Linked DNA regions of Homo sapiens. The protein of the gene in region 2 interacts with the protein of the main gene of each other region in a pairwise test. Each region holds a gene or a part of one and is shown on either strand. Other genes may lie near its edges.

Region 1 (8,596 bases), on a different chromosome or scaffold from region 2:
AAGAGTGTTACTCTGCAGGGCAACTGGATTATTTATGGTGACTAATGTAGCCGTAAGTAATCATACCCCCCTCCAGACTATTCAGATCATACAGCTGCTCAAATGGGTTACCATCACTTACTGCAACAAAGGCTATATACCACAATGTAAACTTCAGTGCTCTCTACACCATCCTTTAGAAGAATGGTTTCCAAATGACCGACTCAGGCAAGTTGGCTGTATAATAAATCCTCTGTAGTACTTTTAAAAAATTAACATGCCCAGACAACTGAGCATGTTGGGATGTAACTAAAGAACTGATTTTTGTATTTAATGCTTCATAGGTAATCATGGTGTACAGATTAGTTCAGTGGACCCAGCCAGTTCTCACTCTAGTGCTGATGTTTAGTTATCACAATTCCCCCCACCCCGCTTTTTTTTTTTTTTTTTTTTTTGAGGTGGAGTCTCACTCTGTCGCCCAGGCTAGAGTGCAACGACACCATCTTGGTTCACCACAACCTCCACCTCCCAGATTCATGCGATTCTCCTGCCTTAGCCTCCCAGGTAGCTGGGATTACAGGCACGCACCACCACAACCAGCTAATTTTCTGTATACTTTTAGTAGAGACGGGGTTTCACCATGTTGGTCAGGCTGGTCTCGAACTCTTGACCTCGTGATCCGCGTGCCTCGGCGTCCCAAAGTGTTGGGATTACAGGCATGAGCCACTGCACCCAGCCAAGACAAGATTAAAGAGCAAAACTTCTCCATCAAGCTACTTCTGTATAGGCAAGTAACATGATAATATTGTGTGTGTTTTTAAATTATTAATTCTTTAGGACATTTAAGTACCCTAGGGCAACATCAGGACTAAAAGCAGGGGCTAGAAGTCCGTCTAAGACTAGCTCTACAGTGTTGCCGGAAGTGATTCCATGTCGTGAGACTCTGCTTCCATTGTAAAAAGCAGCACAATTCCTTTTTCCTTTTTTTTTTTTTGAGACAGTCTTGCTGTGTCACCCACGCTGGAGTGCAGTGGCGTAATCTCGGATCACTGCAACCTCTGCCTTCCAGGTTGAAGCGATTCTCCTGCCTCAGCCTCCCAAGTAGCTGGAACTACAGGCGCCCGCCACCATGTCCAGCTAATTTTTGTATTTTTTTTTTCTTTTTTTTGAGTCAGAGTCTCACTCTGTTGCCCAGGCTGGAGTGCAATGGTGCGATCTCCACTCACTGCAACCTCCGCCTCCCAGATTCAAGCAATTCTCCTGCCTCAGCCTTTTGAGTAGCTGGGATTACTTACAGGCATGCACCACCACACCCAGCTAATTTTTGTAATTTTAGTACAGATGGGGTTTCACCACGTTGGCCAGGCTGGTCTTGAACTCCTGACCTCAGGTGATCCACCCACCTCGGCCTCCCAAAGTGCTGGAATTAAAGGCATGAGCCACCGTGCCTGGCCAAATTTTGTATTTTTTATTCTATTTATTTATTTATTTATTTATTTATTTATTTATTTATTTAATAGAGTTTCACTCTTGTTGCCCAGGCTGGAGTGCAATGGTGCAATCTCAGCTCACCACAACTTCCGTCTCCCGGGTTCAAGCGATTCTCCTGCCTCAGCCTCCCGAGTAGCTGGGATCACAGGCATGTGCTACCATGCCCGGCTAATTTTTTATTTTTAGTAGAGATGGGGTTTCTCCATGTTGGTCAGGCTGGTCTCAAACTCCTGACCTCAAGTCAACTGCCTGCCTCGGCCTCCCAAAGTGCTGGGATTACAGGCGTGAGCCACATGCCCGGCCAGAAGCAGCACAATTTCTGAAGGGGAAAGAGATGTAGAATTCTTAAATAGATGGGAGCTGGCTTTTCCACTTATGCAAAAGATGCACTAGGTTTTAAAAAGATGAAAAATAACTTTTTACCACAAGATCTTCCAGAGAAGAGCCATCACTGATAACAAGGTCATTAAACTGGTCTTGGATTTGGTCCATAGTTTGTGGGAGATCTCGAGCTGGAATAAACCATTCATGCTCTTCTTCCTCTTCCAGCATTTCTTGGAAACAGCGTTCAATAAATTCTTCTTCCCATAACTCCTCTTCTATCTAGATTTATAATAAAGGATAATTTATAGCACACTTGGTAGATATCACTAGGAATGGCTTAAAATATCTTGAACTAAACCATTTAAAGGCACAAAGTCATACTTTCTTTTCTGCTTCCATGCTAAGGAAAAAAAATGCTTACCATAATGACCGGCGAAGATCTATCTGTTTAGGGTTTTTCTATGTTTTTACTTTTATTAGTAGAACATTCTTTTTTCCATTGAGGGTGGCAGGGAAGAAGTAAAAAGAGATGCCTGTCTCTTTTTTCTGTGCCTGTCTGCTCCTGACTCCTGAATTCTCTTGACTTTCACGGTAACCAGCAATCTTACTGGCATAAGGCAGTGGTTTCCACATCTGACTGCTCAATGGAACCATCTGAGAGCTCTGAAAAAGTTTCCCAGGCTCCACCCTCATCCTCCTGATTCAGACATCTCTAGGGTGGGACCCTGAAACAAGCTCCCCAGGTTATTTCCGTAAGCAGTTAAGCCTGGTAGTAATCAGCAGCCAAATAAACAGGAGTGGTGGCACATCAGTCTACATACTTTATACATAAAGGACAAGATAAACACATTTCAGGGACAAGTACAATCATATTGAGGGCCAGAATGGACTATAAAAACATGTTTGTACAAAAAACTAACTTGTCTGTTGAATTCTTCTTCATTTTCCATCCACATGTACTCTGCAAATGGATTGTCATCTTCATGAGAATGACCGTTAATAATCACATCTTCATTGATGATGCTTGGGCTAGTACTGCTGCGACTTGGATCTTTCATGGCTGATGTTGGTTGTCGTTTTTAACCTTAAAAGAACAACAGCACAGTTAATTTACTTACTCATTCAGGGTTTTTTCTTTCTGAGACAAGGTTTCACTCCGTCATCCAGGCTGGAGTGCAATGGTGTGATCATGGCTCACCACAGCCTCGATCTCTTGCCTCAGCCTCCCAAGTAACTGGGACTACAGGTGTGCACCACCACACCACCCGGCTGAATTTTTTTTATTTTTTGTAGAAACAAGGTCTGTGTTACCCAAGCTGGTCTCAAATTTCTGGGCTCAAGTGATCCTCCCACCCAAGCCTCTCAAAGTGCTGGGATTATATGCATGAGCCACCAGGCCCAGCTGATTCTTTCAGTTCTTAGTGAGCATCTGTTTATTATTAGCAGGCATCATGAATAGGTGTTAGAGGCAGATGATACATTAAAAATACACGGTAAGTTGAATAATTGGAAAGCTTCATGTTTGTTTTTTCCAAATGATTTTAATGTTTTAAGAAACAGGAGAGGACAGCCTAAAACATCTAATGTTTTCTTTTTTTTTTTGAGATAGAGTTTCACTCTGTCACCCAGGCTGGAATGCAGTGGCATGATCTTGGTTCACTGCAACCTCAACTGCCCATGTTTAAGCGATTCTCCCGCCTCAGCCTCCCAAGTAGCTGGGATTACAGGCACGTGCTACCATGCCCAGCTAATTTTTGTATTTTTAGTAGAGATGGAGTTTCGCCACGTTGGCCAGGCTGGTCTTGAACTCCTGACCTCAGATGATCTGCCTGCCTTGGCCTCCCAAAGTGCTGAGATTATAGGTGTGCGCCACCACGCCCGGCCACATCTAATGTTTTCCGATAACAGTAAATGAAGTCCATCAGTTGCTTACATGGACTCTCCAAACCATCCAATTTATATTTTATATTACATATCACTTGCTTTGTAAAGCAAGCATGGTCGGCTGGGTGCAGTGGCTCATGCCTATAATCCCGGCACTTTGGGAGGCGGGGGCAGGTGGATCATTTAAGGTCAGGAGTTTGAGACCAGCCTAACATGGTGAAACCCTGTCTCTACTAAAAATACAAAAAAGGCCAGGCGCGGTGGCTCATGCCTGTAATCCCAGCACTTTGGGAGGCCGAGGCAGGTGGATCACCTGAGGTCGAGAGTTCAAGACCAGCCTGATCAACATGGTGAAACCCCGTCTCTACTAAAAATACAAAATTAGCCGGGCGTGGTGGCACATGCCTGTAATCCCAGCTACTCCGGAGGCTGAGGCAGGAGAATTGCTTGAACCCGGGAGGCGGAGGCTGTGGTGAGCCAAGATTGCGCCGTTGCACTCCAGCCTGGGCAAAAAGAGTGAAACTCCATCTCAAAAAAAAAAAAAAAAAAAAAACACCCAAAAACAAAAAATTTAGCTGGGCATGGTGGTACATGCCTGTAATCCCAGCTACTCAGGAGGCTGAGGTGGGAGAATCACTTGAAACCAGGAGGCAGAGGGTACAGTGAGCCGAGACTGCACCACTGCACTCCAGCCTAGGCAACAGAGGGAAACTCCACCTCAAACAACAACAACAACAACAACAAAAACCAAACACGGTCTGAAAGACTGAGTCATCAAGTGATGAAATGATGAAAAGCAAATTCAATTTTTAAAAACTGACTTCAAAAAGTCCAGGGATTGAAAGTGAAAACTAACAGATTTTTAATAACTTCTTAGGTTCTTCATGTATATAGCTCTGGATCTCTCCTTGATAGCCCATATTCTGTGTCTGCTTTTTCTCTAGGTCCATGTCAAGTTCTTCCATGTCTGGAGTTCCTCACTGTACAGTGAGTTTCAGGCATCTTTTTTTTTTTTTTTTTTTTGAGACAGGGTCTCACCCAGACGAGTGCAGTGGCGTGATCTCAGCTCACCGCAACCTCCGCCTCCCAGGCTCAAGCAATTCTCCTGCCTCAGCCTCCAGAGTAGCTGGGATTACAGGCGTATGCCATTATCACCTGGCTAACTTTTGTATTTTTAGTAGAGACTGGGTTTCACCATGTTGGCCAGGCTAGCCTTGAACTCAAGACCTCAAATGATCCACCTGTCTCAGCCTCCCAAAGTGCTGGGATTACATGCATGAGCCATCGCGCCCAGCCCAGTATCTTTTCACCTGAGTAAAAGTAGTATCAAATACAAGCCTGATGTCTTATACTACTCAATAGCTGATAACATGATCTAACCTAATTGATACATTGCAGGCTAAATATCTGAAGCACAAGGTTTCACATTCTAAAATATTCCAATTCATTAAGTTTGAAATCACTAAAAATAGATTTACATAAAACAATTCACCTGTACGTAAACTCAAGCAGTATAGTGACTTGTGCCAAAGAAAGGCTTATTGAGGTCTGCTTACCTCACATTTGTCATAATCAAGTAAAACACTAAATCTAAAATCTCCTACTGGAAATATATGTATTTTTTTCCCTTTGGGATAAGTTTCAGGGAAAAGATGAACCCTATGTGTGTTGCCTGGCCCTTTAAATTTTATGGACTTATCCTTAAGAGGACATAAGTGTAATAAAAATCCATAGCTGTTCATGTAATATGACAAATACTAGATACTAATGACAACAGGATCATAGTGGTGAAAATTTTAATTGTTGAGAGGTCCTCAACTAAAAATTTCTGGGAACTTCTGTCCTAGTTATAGTATGTATATCTATAAAAGAAAGGCAGGCCGGGCACTGTGGCTCACTCCAGTAATTCCAGCATTTTGGGAGGACAAAGCAGGCGGACTGCTTGAGCCCAGGAGTTCGAGACCAGCCTGGGCAACATAGAGAACCCCATCTCTACTACAAATACAAAAAATTAGCTGGATGTGGTGGTGCATGCCTATAATCCCAGCTATCTGGGAGGCTGAGGCAAGAGAATCACTGGAACCTGGGAGGCAGAGGTTGCAGAGAGGCAAGATCACATCACTGCACTTCAGCCTGGGCAAGAAAGCAAGACCCTGTCTCCAAAAAAGAAAAAAAAAAAAAGAAAGGCAGGAAGAAACAAACTGGGTGCGGCTCATGCCTGTAATCCCAACACTTTGGGAGGTCAACAGGGGTGGATCGCTTGAGCCCAGGAGTTTGATACTAGCCTGGGCAATATGGCAAAGCTGGGTACAGTGGTGCACGCCTGCAGTCCCAGCTACTTGGGAGGCCAAGGTAGGAGGATCTCCTGACCCTGGGAGGTGGAGGTTGCAGTGAGCTGAGATAGTGCCACTGCACTCCAGCCTGGGCGGCAGAGCAAGACCCTATCTTGAAAAACAATAATACAATCAAACAAAAGAAGAAAGGCAGAAACAGACTCAGAGTTATGTGCTATGGTGTTAGTAGAAAGAAAATATGATAATATGATTTGTTAGGAAATTGAGGCACTGTAAAAGCAGACAAGACAGAAAACAGACAATGGATATCTGTTATTTTTATCATTAAACTTGGATGAAAAACTATTTTGATAGCAAGTTTTGACTAAATAATAACCAGTTCCTCTAAAGAAAATAATTAGACTGGGTGCGGTGGCTCCCGCCTATAATCCCAACACTTTGGGAGGCCAAGGCGGGCAGATCACGAGATCGGGAGTTCGAGACCAGCCTGGCCAATATGGTGAAATCCCGTCTCTACTAAAAATACAAAAACTAGCCAGGTATGGTGGCACGCACCTGTAGTCCCAGCTACTTGGGAGGCCAAGGCAGAAGAATCGCTTGAACCTGAGAGGTGGAGGTTGCAGTGAGCCGAGACTGCGCCACTGCACTCTGGCCTGGGCAACAGAGCGCGACTACATCTCAAAAAAAAGAAAAGAAGAAAATTACCCATTTTTTTTTGAGACGGAGAGTACAGTGGTGCAATCTCAGCTCACTGCAACCTCTGCCTCCTGGTTCAAGAGATTCTCCTGCCTCCGCCTCCTGTGTAGCTGGGATTACAGGAGCGTGCCACCATGGCCGGCTAATTTTTTTGTATTTTTAGTAGAGACAGGGTTTCACCACGTTGGCCCGGCTGGCCTCAAACGCCTGACCTCAAGTGATCCGCCCACCTCAGCCTCCCAAAGTGCTGGGATTACAGGCATGAGCCACCGTGTCCGGCCGAAAATTACTCATTCTTATATGGCAGGCTACCAAACTGCTTACTGTTAAATAATTACATTTTAGATATTCCTCTAACACTGTGAATGGCTGGGATTGATCCTGCCTCACAACTGGATGGAACTTTGGTTAATCTGCATCTGAACCTTATCATTAAGTTAGGTACAAAGACACCCCAATATAAACAGGTTTTCATTATTTTCCCAATTTGTATCCTGTCCCAACTTATGCCCATAAAATCCTACTTTTCACACCGGGCACTGTGGCTCATGCCTGTAATCCGAGCACTTTGGGAGGCTGAGGCGGGCAGATCACTTGAGGTCAGGAGTTTGAGACCAGCCTGGCCAACATGGCGAAACCCTGTCTCTACTGAAAATGAAAAAAAATTAGCCGGGTGTGATGGCGCACACCTGTAATGCCAGCTACACAGGAGGCTGAGGCAGGAGAATCACTTGAACCCAGGAGGTAGAGGTTCCAGTGTGCCAAGATCGCGCCACTGCACTCTCCAGCCTGGGAGACAGAGTAAGACTCTGTCTCAAACAAATAACTTAGCTGGGTGTGGTGGTGCACGCCTGTGGTCCCAGATACTCAGGAGAGTGAGGTGGGAAGATCATATTAGCCCGAGGTCAAGGCTGCAGAGAGCCATGATCGCACGCCACTGCATTCCAGCCTGGGCAACAGAGCAAGACCTCGTCTCAAAAAAAGAATTTACTGTTTTAAAGTGTTTGATTCAGTGGTTTTAACACACCACCATTACCTAATTCCAGAACATTTTCACCACCCCAAAAGGAAACTCCATACCCATCTGTAGTCACTCTCCATTTCCCAAGCCCCCCAACTTGGACAACCACTAGTCTACTTTCTGTCTCTATAGATTTGCCTATTCTGAACATTGCATATAAATGGAATCATAAAATATGTGTCCTCTTCTCATGTCTGGCTTCTTTCACTTATTACAATGTTTTCAAGGTTCACCTATGTTGTAGCATGTATCAGCATTTCATTCCTTTTTATTGCCAAACAATATTCCATTGTATAGAGATACACATTTTATCTACTCTGATTAATGAGCATCTGCAGTCGTTTCCACTTTTTGGCTATTAATAATGCTGTTATCGGTATTTGTGTACAAGTTTTTATATGAGCACGTTTTCAGTTCTCTTGAATATATACCCAATGTGTTCAATGCTAGTCAGTCTTTTAGCTATACATTTTCAACTGTGATAGAAAAAATGAGTAAAAAAGGTAGCTGACTCCCTCCCCACCACCAGACACAATCCTCACTCCCAATCCTTTTCCCAAAAGTAAGCACTGCTAATGTGGTATATATTTTTCTTAAAAAGTAAACACATATGCAACAATAGTATTGCATTTAAGGGCCTTACAGTCATCATCTATTTAATACTCACAAGTCCTGTGGATGTAGGGATTATGGTCAAATTCATTTCCATGACAAAGAACTAAGTCTTAAGTAACTTGTTCCAGGTTACACAACTAGTGAACAGTGGAGCTGAAATTCAAGTCAAGGTAGCCTGACTCTAAAACATGCACCAGGGCCCAGCACTTTGGGAGTCTGAGGTGGGCCTCCAGACCCAGCTGTTGAAAACCAGCATGGGCAACATAGTGAGACCCCTATCTCTACAGAACTA
Region 2 (8,477 bases):
TATAAACAGTGATTTCCATTTTGAAAATATTTGCAAATGGATAAACCTGTAATTTGTAGATAAACAAATACATAGAAACAGCTTATTGTCATTATTTTATGGTCAAAGAGCTAACAAAAGTGTTAACAAAGTTATATATTTACATTGTACTATGTATGAAAATGAAGATTTGTATATAAGGTAATAAAACTGACAGTAGAGATAAAACATATTCTAATGTTGAATCTGTGGCATAAGTGAATCATATTATAAAAAAGTAATTATTTAAATTTTACATAAATTAGGTATTTTCTTCTTCCTAAAAGGACTTGAACTGGTATATATTTTTAAAAAGGTAATACAAAAAATAGAAAAATAAGTGTAATATGAATGGAAGGCAGGCAATGAGGAGAACAGGAAACTGCAAGTGAAATGTAGAGAATCTCCAATTTAGAAATTACAGGCTAATAAATGTAACGGCAATATTGAACAAACCTTTTTTTTTTTTAATTTTCAAGCAGCCAAGACATAAAGAAAACCATATTGGTTTCACAGTTCTCATATAATGGCTGGAGGCATATGACTTAATCCAAGAGACAACCTATTCCTTACCTTTGAAACACCTGTGAATATTATCAAAAGGACACACACAATAATTTACAAGAGATAACAAGTTTAATAGAAGGTGTTCTTCGAAGAAGTTTTTCAACATCATTCTGTGGAGTACTGCCTTTTATATTGACAGTTGATAAAACCCGAAGGTAAAATATTAAATTATTTATAGGTAAAGGCAATTCAGCGCAGTTATTCATCTTTCTTGTTAATTTAACATGATCCAAGTATATGTACTAAGGAATTTAGAAAAATGAATGGTAGGAGTGGTACTGAAAGTATCCTCACATACCAAATCTCTTAGGAAAGGTTTTTAAGATGCAATTCCTACTTTAAATAGCCACTGCCTAAAGTGTTAATTTTCTCAGTGACTAATTGAGAAAACACCAATATGCTTACTTCTTTGGGCAAGAAGTTAATACGACCACTCCCAACATTTAGTCAAAAGTACTATCAAATCTGTAGCATGTTCACAACATATTAAAAAATGAAACAAGAATACAAATAAAGAAAATAAAATACATTTCACATTTTTTGAAAAAACATTCATTTTTGCATAATAATTTTAAGTGAAATTATGCAGATGTTAATTGCATCACATATGTTTTCCCCTGCTGTACTGACTTCTCAAAAACAAGTTAGAACTTTTCACTGTGATAGATTCAGAAGAACCATGTTGACATTTTCATGAAAAAAAATAGAGTATTACTGAAATAAGAAGGGAAATATACTCAATCAATTGCCTCACCTTGACTGTTCAGGAAAAAAAAGTGGAGGAATACACTTTATTCTACAGATTTCTAAGGATATTACATCAAAAAAAGTACAAAATGACAATTTTACAGTTAGAAATTATGTTCTATTCTAAAATGAATAAAGTTTTCTAGTTTTGCATTTTTTTTTCAAAAGAATTCACTTCAAAAAAAAACTTGTGAATTAGCATAAAATAACCCCTTATCACAAAGGAGCCCAAACTAAGGAGGCACCAACTAAGGCTGAAACAAACTGAGCATTCTTATTCTCAGCACCTGCGCCTGGCCTGGCCCAGGGTGACATGCAGGGGCTTGGAGCCCACTATGCGGCCATTCATCTCATCCACTGCTTTGGTAGCCTCTTCAAAAGAGGAAAAGCAGACCACACCAAATCCTTTGCCTTGCCCCACTTCCATCATCACTTTGGCCCGACTAATTGACCCAAAGGAAGAAAATTCCTCCTTCAGTTTTTCATCATTGATTGTCTCATCCAAGTTCTTAATATAGATAGGCACCCCTGGGGGCCGACTTTTTTCTTTTAACCTCAGCCGTTCAAATCTCCGCCTCAACTCAGCCAGGCGTTCAATTTTCTTCTGTGCTCGCCCTACATAGAGGACTTTTCCATCGATGGACTTTCCATGCAAGTCTAGCACAGCCTTTTGGGCAGCCTCGTGTGTCTCATATCTCACAAATCCAAAGCCTTTAGATTTCCCACTGGCATCTCTTATTACTTTAACACTCTCAGTTGGCCCATATTCACAGAAAAGTTCCTTCAGTTTTTCGTCATCTATGTCGTCTCCAATGTTTTTAACGAAAACATTGGTGAAAGTTGCTCTATCCCTGGTTCTGACCTCAGCCGCCCGCTCTTCTGGGAATTTGAATCTGCCAACATACACCTGGCGGTTGTTGAGCCGCACTCCATTCATGTGCCAGATGGCTCTATTGGCAGCGGCCAGGCTGTCAAAGTGAACATAGGCATAACCCTTAGAGCCGTTGTCATCGCATACGACTTTGCAGGACAGAATGTTCCCAAAAGCAGAAAATAAGTAAAACAGGGCCCTATTGTCTATGGATTTGTCCAGGTTTTTGATGAATATATTTCCCACTCCAGACTTTCTTAAGCGGTCATCTGGCTGAGACCACATAAGGCGGAATGGTTTTCCATTAATCAAATCAAAATTCATGGTGTTCAAGGCCCACTCTGCATCCGCGGGAAAGCGGAAGTTAACATACCCATAGCCCAGGGGGCTGCGGGTCACCGGATCACGGCAGATTCGGGTGAATCGCAGAGGGCCAGCAGGCCTGAACTTCTTATAGAGCATGTCCTCGGTGACATCTGGGTCCAAGTCACCCACGTACAGAGCGGCCTTGAGATACTTCTTTTTCTTGCCAGCAGGATTAGGCTCCCCGCTCCCCATCTCTCTGAGCACTGGGAGGAGGTTCTCTTTGAAGAGAAAAAAGGCTGCTTTCTCTAAGCTATGGGCCAAACAGCTGTTCACGAACAGAAAAAGCCAAGGCAGGCAAAAGGAAGCTAAAAGCAGACTCAGAATCACTGTCGAGGCTGAGAAAATGAAGTTCAGAAACAGCTGGTCAGCAGGCTCAGAACAAACACATCAGACAAAAAGGCGCCCCAAATACGAATCTATTCTCCCTGCGGGGACTTAAAATTGTCACCCGTTCAGATTTAAAATCAGTTTCAAAAGCCAGTACCAGAAACGTAATTTTCCTGTCCCCGTGAAATTGTGAGAAGCCACCAAGCAGCTGGCTGGTTCCCCACAACTAGCATTGCAGACAGAGGCCTCCCGACCCGCTTTCTGCATAAATATAGGCCTAGAGCTCCTGTTGGTTTAAAATGATATCAACAAGGGCAGGGACCGAGCGCGTATTCCTCCGCCGGCTGCCTGGCCAGTCTCGGGCTGGCTAGCCTTTCGCTAAGGCCTCTCCGCACTCAGCGTCTGCGAAAGGGTACACCAGACACTTGGTGCGATAAGACCGGCAGGCAGGCTGCAGGCAGCGGATAGGACACAGAGACAGACAGACAGACACACGCGCGGGGGATCGAAGACCGCCCAGATACCCAAGATGCCCACTGGGTACGGACCGAGTGAGGCGCGGTGATTTCAGCAGCCTGAGGCTCGAGGCAGGTCCGGAGAGACTGACTGGCAAACGCGCAGTGAGTGGGTCAGCTCTGACGCGAGGCGGGTCTGGCCAGATGCGGGGCGGAGTCAGCGAAGAAGGGCAGATGCGCGGCGGGCGGTCCCAGCGCAGACCGATGGGCTGGGGTTTCTCTCCGCAGGACAGTCCAACGGAGGGACCAAGAGCCAGTAGCAGTGATAGGGAGGGGGGACAGGCGGGGCGCGAGAAACCCGGAACCGTGCTAAGTAACTTCCCGCTTCCTCTGTACCAAGATTTAAAAAAAAAGAGAGAGAGAGAAGGGGGGAGAGAGAGAGAGAGAGAGAGAGAGAGAGAGAAGGGGAGAGAATGAGAGAGAGAGAGAGAAGGAGAGAAAGAAAAATCTAAGATGGCTTTTAGATGTTTCTTATATTTTAAATGTTATTTATTATTTAAAACACTATATTTAAGCCGAACATCTAAAAATCACATAAGAAGATGACGACCTGGGCAAAAATAATAAGTTTTAAAAAACTAATTATCAAAATCATTTAAGCTTAGGGAAAAGGATAGGTTGCATACTTTCCTGAGTGCATTGGAAAGTCAAAGTTTACAAATGTCCTGGCCTCCCAATCCAGTGCTAAAGGATCACAGGGTCAAGTAGAACACAGGACCATGTTGCCTTTGGCCTTTAGCCTTACTTCATTAATCTCCAACATAATGGTAATATTTTCCTCAGGTGGTAGGCAAAGAGATCTTTTCTCTGATCCCATAATACTAAGGTTTTAATGATTGGAGAGCCATATAATGGCTTTTGATGGTGTTTAGTGCCACAAAACGTTGAAACTGTTGAGCTGCCGCGAGAATTACAGTTACAAAATCTCAGTTAAAGAGATAAAAGCCACAGAATCAATACAAAATATGTAATTAATATTTACAGATGAAATAAACATGTTAAGATATATGCACTTTACACAATTATGAATTTCATCATGAGTTGTCAACTTGAAACCCTTGAAGGAAACAGTGCCATCAGACTGGACTCAACTCAGCAGTTTCTCAACAATATCTCTCTTCAGAGTATTTGAGAAACCCTTTTGGAGAGAAATTTTGACCGTGTTTTCAGAAATTCACTGATATCTAGCATGCGCAAACAACACTTCAAGAGGCTCCTTCCACAATTCCTACCCCTCCAGAAAAATCCAAACAAAACATCTATCACTACTCTTAGGCTGGAAAAGATCCTGGGAAAAAAAGATTGCAAGAGAAGGACATTACCTTAGTGGGTGTTTTCCTAATAAGTCCTCAGAATAAGAGGCTAAATTAACGTATTCATTCACTTTATACATTTTATAGTGTCTATTAGACTGTAGAGTTGACATTAAACCTCATTATTTACTCAAAAACTTAGTAATTTTCTTTACTATTTTTTTTTTTTGCTTGCTTTCTAGTGTTCTTGGTTAACTAAGACATGGAGATTTTGAGAAAAGGCAAATATGAACAATGATATTATAGACTAATAAATGGGTTTTACAGTGTGACCAGAGTGACCAACATGTGGAAACACTTGTGAACATCTGCCTAGTTTATTGCATTTTGAATATATTTTTATAAACATATTTTCTTTTATGCGTAATTAACAATGGGTTAGAATTCTAGTCTGTTTTGGACTTTTCTCATTTTTAAAACTGCCTTATTGAAAATAGTAAAATAACAACATAAATCCAATTTCCACAATCTCATCATTGATTCAAATCAATATTTTCATCTGTTCCTGTAACCAACTAAATGTTGTCCATATTCAAATTTATTTGTACATATTTTCTCTAAGATTATAGTTAGAATTGATTTGTTATAATACACGTTTTCAAAATAATCACTTCTCTACACTTACCACTTCCATTCAACATAGTACTGGAAACCTTAGGCAGAGCAATTAGGCCAGAGAAGGAAATAAAAGCATCAAAATCAGAAAGAAAAAAGTAAATTAATCTTTGTTTGCAGATGGCATAATCTTATCTGTAGAAAACCCTAAAGTCTAATATTTTTTAAATCTCCATACTATCCAAACTGATCAATATAATCCCTATCAAAAGCCCAATGGCATTTTTTTTTTACAGAAATAGAAAAAACAACCTAAAATTCATTTGTAGTCACAAAAAAACCCTGAATAACCAAAGCAATCTGAGAACGAAGAAAAAAGCTGGAGACACCATTCTTCCTGATTTCAAAACATGTTACAAAGCTACAGTAATTACAACACTGTAGCACTGTCATAAAAAACAGACATATAGGCCAATGAGGCAGAATAAAGAGCCCAGAAATAAACCCACACATGTACAGTTAAGTGGTCTTTGACAAAGGTGCCAAGAAAACACAATAAAGAAAGGATTGTCTCTTTCACAAATAGTGTTAAAAACTTGGATATACGTAAAATTGGATCCTTATCTTACACTGTACACAAAAATCAACTCAAAATACAGACTTTCAACCTGATCCGAAACTATAAAATTTTAGAAGAAAACAGGGTAAGAGCTTCTTGACATTAGTCTTACCAATGACTTCTTGTATATGACACCAAAACACAAGCAAAAAAAAAAAAAAAAGAATATAGAAAAAGAGTACATCAAATTAAAAGGCTTCTGCACAGCAAAATAAACAATCAACAGTGTAAAGGTAGCTTACAGAATGGGAGAAAATTTTTGTAAAACAAGTATTTGATAAGGGGCTATCGTCCCCAAATAAAAGGAACTTTTACAACTTAATGGCAAAAACAAACAAAGAAACAACTTGAATAGTCATCTCTCAAAAGAAGGAATATAAATGGCTAATGGGTAAATGAAAAGATGCTCAACATCATAATCATCATTGGAATGCAAATCAAACCCTTAATGAGATGTCGTCTCACATCTGTAGAGATGGCTATTATAAAAAATCAAAACATAACAAATGTTGGCCAGTATGTGGAAGAATTGGAATCCATTACCTTTGGTGGGAATGTAAAGTGGTACAACTGCTATGGTAAACAGTATGGAGGTTCTTCAAAAACTTAAAAGTAGAAATTCCATATGAAGCAGCAATCCTACTAGGATTGCTAAATCCTTACAAGGTAACATGTAACCTTACTCCTGCAATCTGCCAACATTCATGCTCTCTACCCCTCCCCACACACAACTAATTGAGTTAATATGTATCCAAGTTCTACTGGATAGTAGTCACATATATTTAGGTATATATCCAAAGTAATTGAAATCAGAATCTCAGAGATATTTGCACTCCCGTGTTAATTACAGCATTATTTACCATAGCTAAGTCTTGGAAATGACATAAATGTCCATTGATGGTTGAATGCATAAAGAAAATGTGGTATAAACATACAATGGAATATTATTCAGCCTAAAAAAAAAGAAATCCTGCAGCATGTGGCAACAGGGATGGGATGGAGCTCAAGAACATTATGTGAAGTGAAATAAGCCAATCACGGAAGGGCAAATAGTGCATGATTCCATGTCAATGACATATTTAGAATAGTTAGACTCATGGAAACAGAGAGTAGAGTGGTGGTTGGGAGCGACTGCTGGAGGGGAACTGGGGAATTCAGTGGACATAAAGTTTTGGTTACACAAGATGAACAAGTTCTAGAGAGCTGCTGTACAACATTGTGCCTATATTTAAAAATACTGTATTGTGCTCTTAAAAAGTTTGTTAGAAGGGTTGATCGCATGTTAAGTGTTCTTAGTACAATTTTTTAAAAAAATCATTCAACTGTGAAGAAATATGAGTATTAAAAAACATATAATAAAAATAATATAACAACTTTAAATATATTTTGAGTTAGTTTGGCATCTCCTCAGGGTGATTTTTTATTTTAAAATATTTAATGGACAAAGATCGTATATATTCAAGATGTACAATGTGATGATTTGCTATATGTATGCATTGTATAATGATGACTAAAATCAGATTGATTAACACATCTTAGAGTGCCCTTTTAATTAGATATTATTAGTTTAAAATAAATACTTAGAATAGTACATGTGAATTTAAGCAGTTACTATGTATTCAGAATCCAGTGTATTTAGAGATTTATATATAATTAAGCTATTTTCTGTTATGATACATTGAAACAAGGTAGGCGATCGTTGCCTGCTTAGCAGATAGTCTCAGACAAATTTCTGTTTCTTTGCTAGTGCTTGTTAACTGAACACGTCTCATATAGGGAAAATATATATTTAGCACATTCTCTGATTAGAAATCTTGATTTGTAGTCCTTTCACTTGACCTAGAAGAATAAATAAAAGAATAATAATTTTAAAAGATGTGAACATTATGCTTTATTTTAAATTTTAAAATTGTTGTAAAATACATGTAACAAAATTTACCATCTTGATGATTTTTAAGTGTTTAAGCGGTATTAGGAACATTCATATTGTTGTGTAACCATCACCATTATCTATCTCCAGAACTCTTTTTATCTTGTTAAACTGAAACTCTATACCTATTAACCTGTGCTTTTAGATGACATTTAAAATATATTAAACCGTTTCTCTATTGTTGGACATTAAAGCTGCTTTTAGTTATTTTAGTATTATAACAAACAATGCTATAATAAACATCCACATTGCGTAATTTTATATATTATTGATTCTATTAACTAGATTCTCAGAAGTGGGGATTGCAAAATTAAGTGGTATGTATATTATGAAATGTTATTATATACTGTCAGACTTGTTTCAAATATGCTGTAGCAATTTATCTATTTTGCCAAAAACATGAAAAATTGGAGGAACTTGGAATTTCTAGCAAAATAGAAATTACCAAATTTCATTGAAAGGAAAAAAGAACAATAGCCTTAGAAAAAAATGACAGAATGATTACACATATGCTACTAATAAAACGAACAGGAACAGGTGATTTTATAGTTGAGTACTGTTATATAACCTTTGAGAAAACATAAGGCATGGTGGCTCACTCCTGTAATCCCAGCACTTTGGGAGGCCGAGGCAGAAGAATTGCTTGAGC

The links.
Region 1: the proteins of PABPC5 (region 2) and PAIP2 interact in binary tests that used the Homo sapiens proteins (3 or more experiments, as listed by UniProt).

The regions. Positions count from the first base shown.
Region 1 is NC_000005.10:139,358,041-139,366,636, reverse strand, and holds part of PAIP2 (polyadenylate-binding protein-interacting protein 2), read right to left. Parts: intron 2,879-8,596; 5' UTR 2,853-2,878; coding exon 2,715-2,852; intron 2,074-2,714; coding exon 1,894-2,073; intron 1-1,893. UniProt on the Homo sapiens protein: Acts as a repressor in the regulation of translation initiation of poly(A)-containing mRNAs. Its inhibitory activity on translation is mediated via its action on PABPC1.
Region 2 is NC_000023.11:91,429,862-91,438,338, reverse strand, and holds the start of PABPC5 (polyadenylate-binding protein 5), read right to left. Parts: upstream 3,501-8,477; 5' UTR 3,445-3,500; intron 3,437-3,444; exon of another isoform or gene 3,340-3,436; intron 2,905-3,339; 5' UTR 2,762-2,904; coding exon 1,613-2,761; 3' UTR 1-1,612. UniProt on the Homo sapiens protein: Binds the poly(A) tail of mRNA. May be involved in cytoplasmic regulatory processes of mRNA metabolism. Can probably bind to cytoplasmic RNA sequences other than poly(A) in vivo.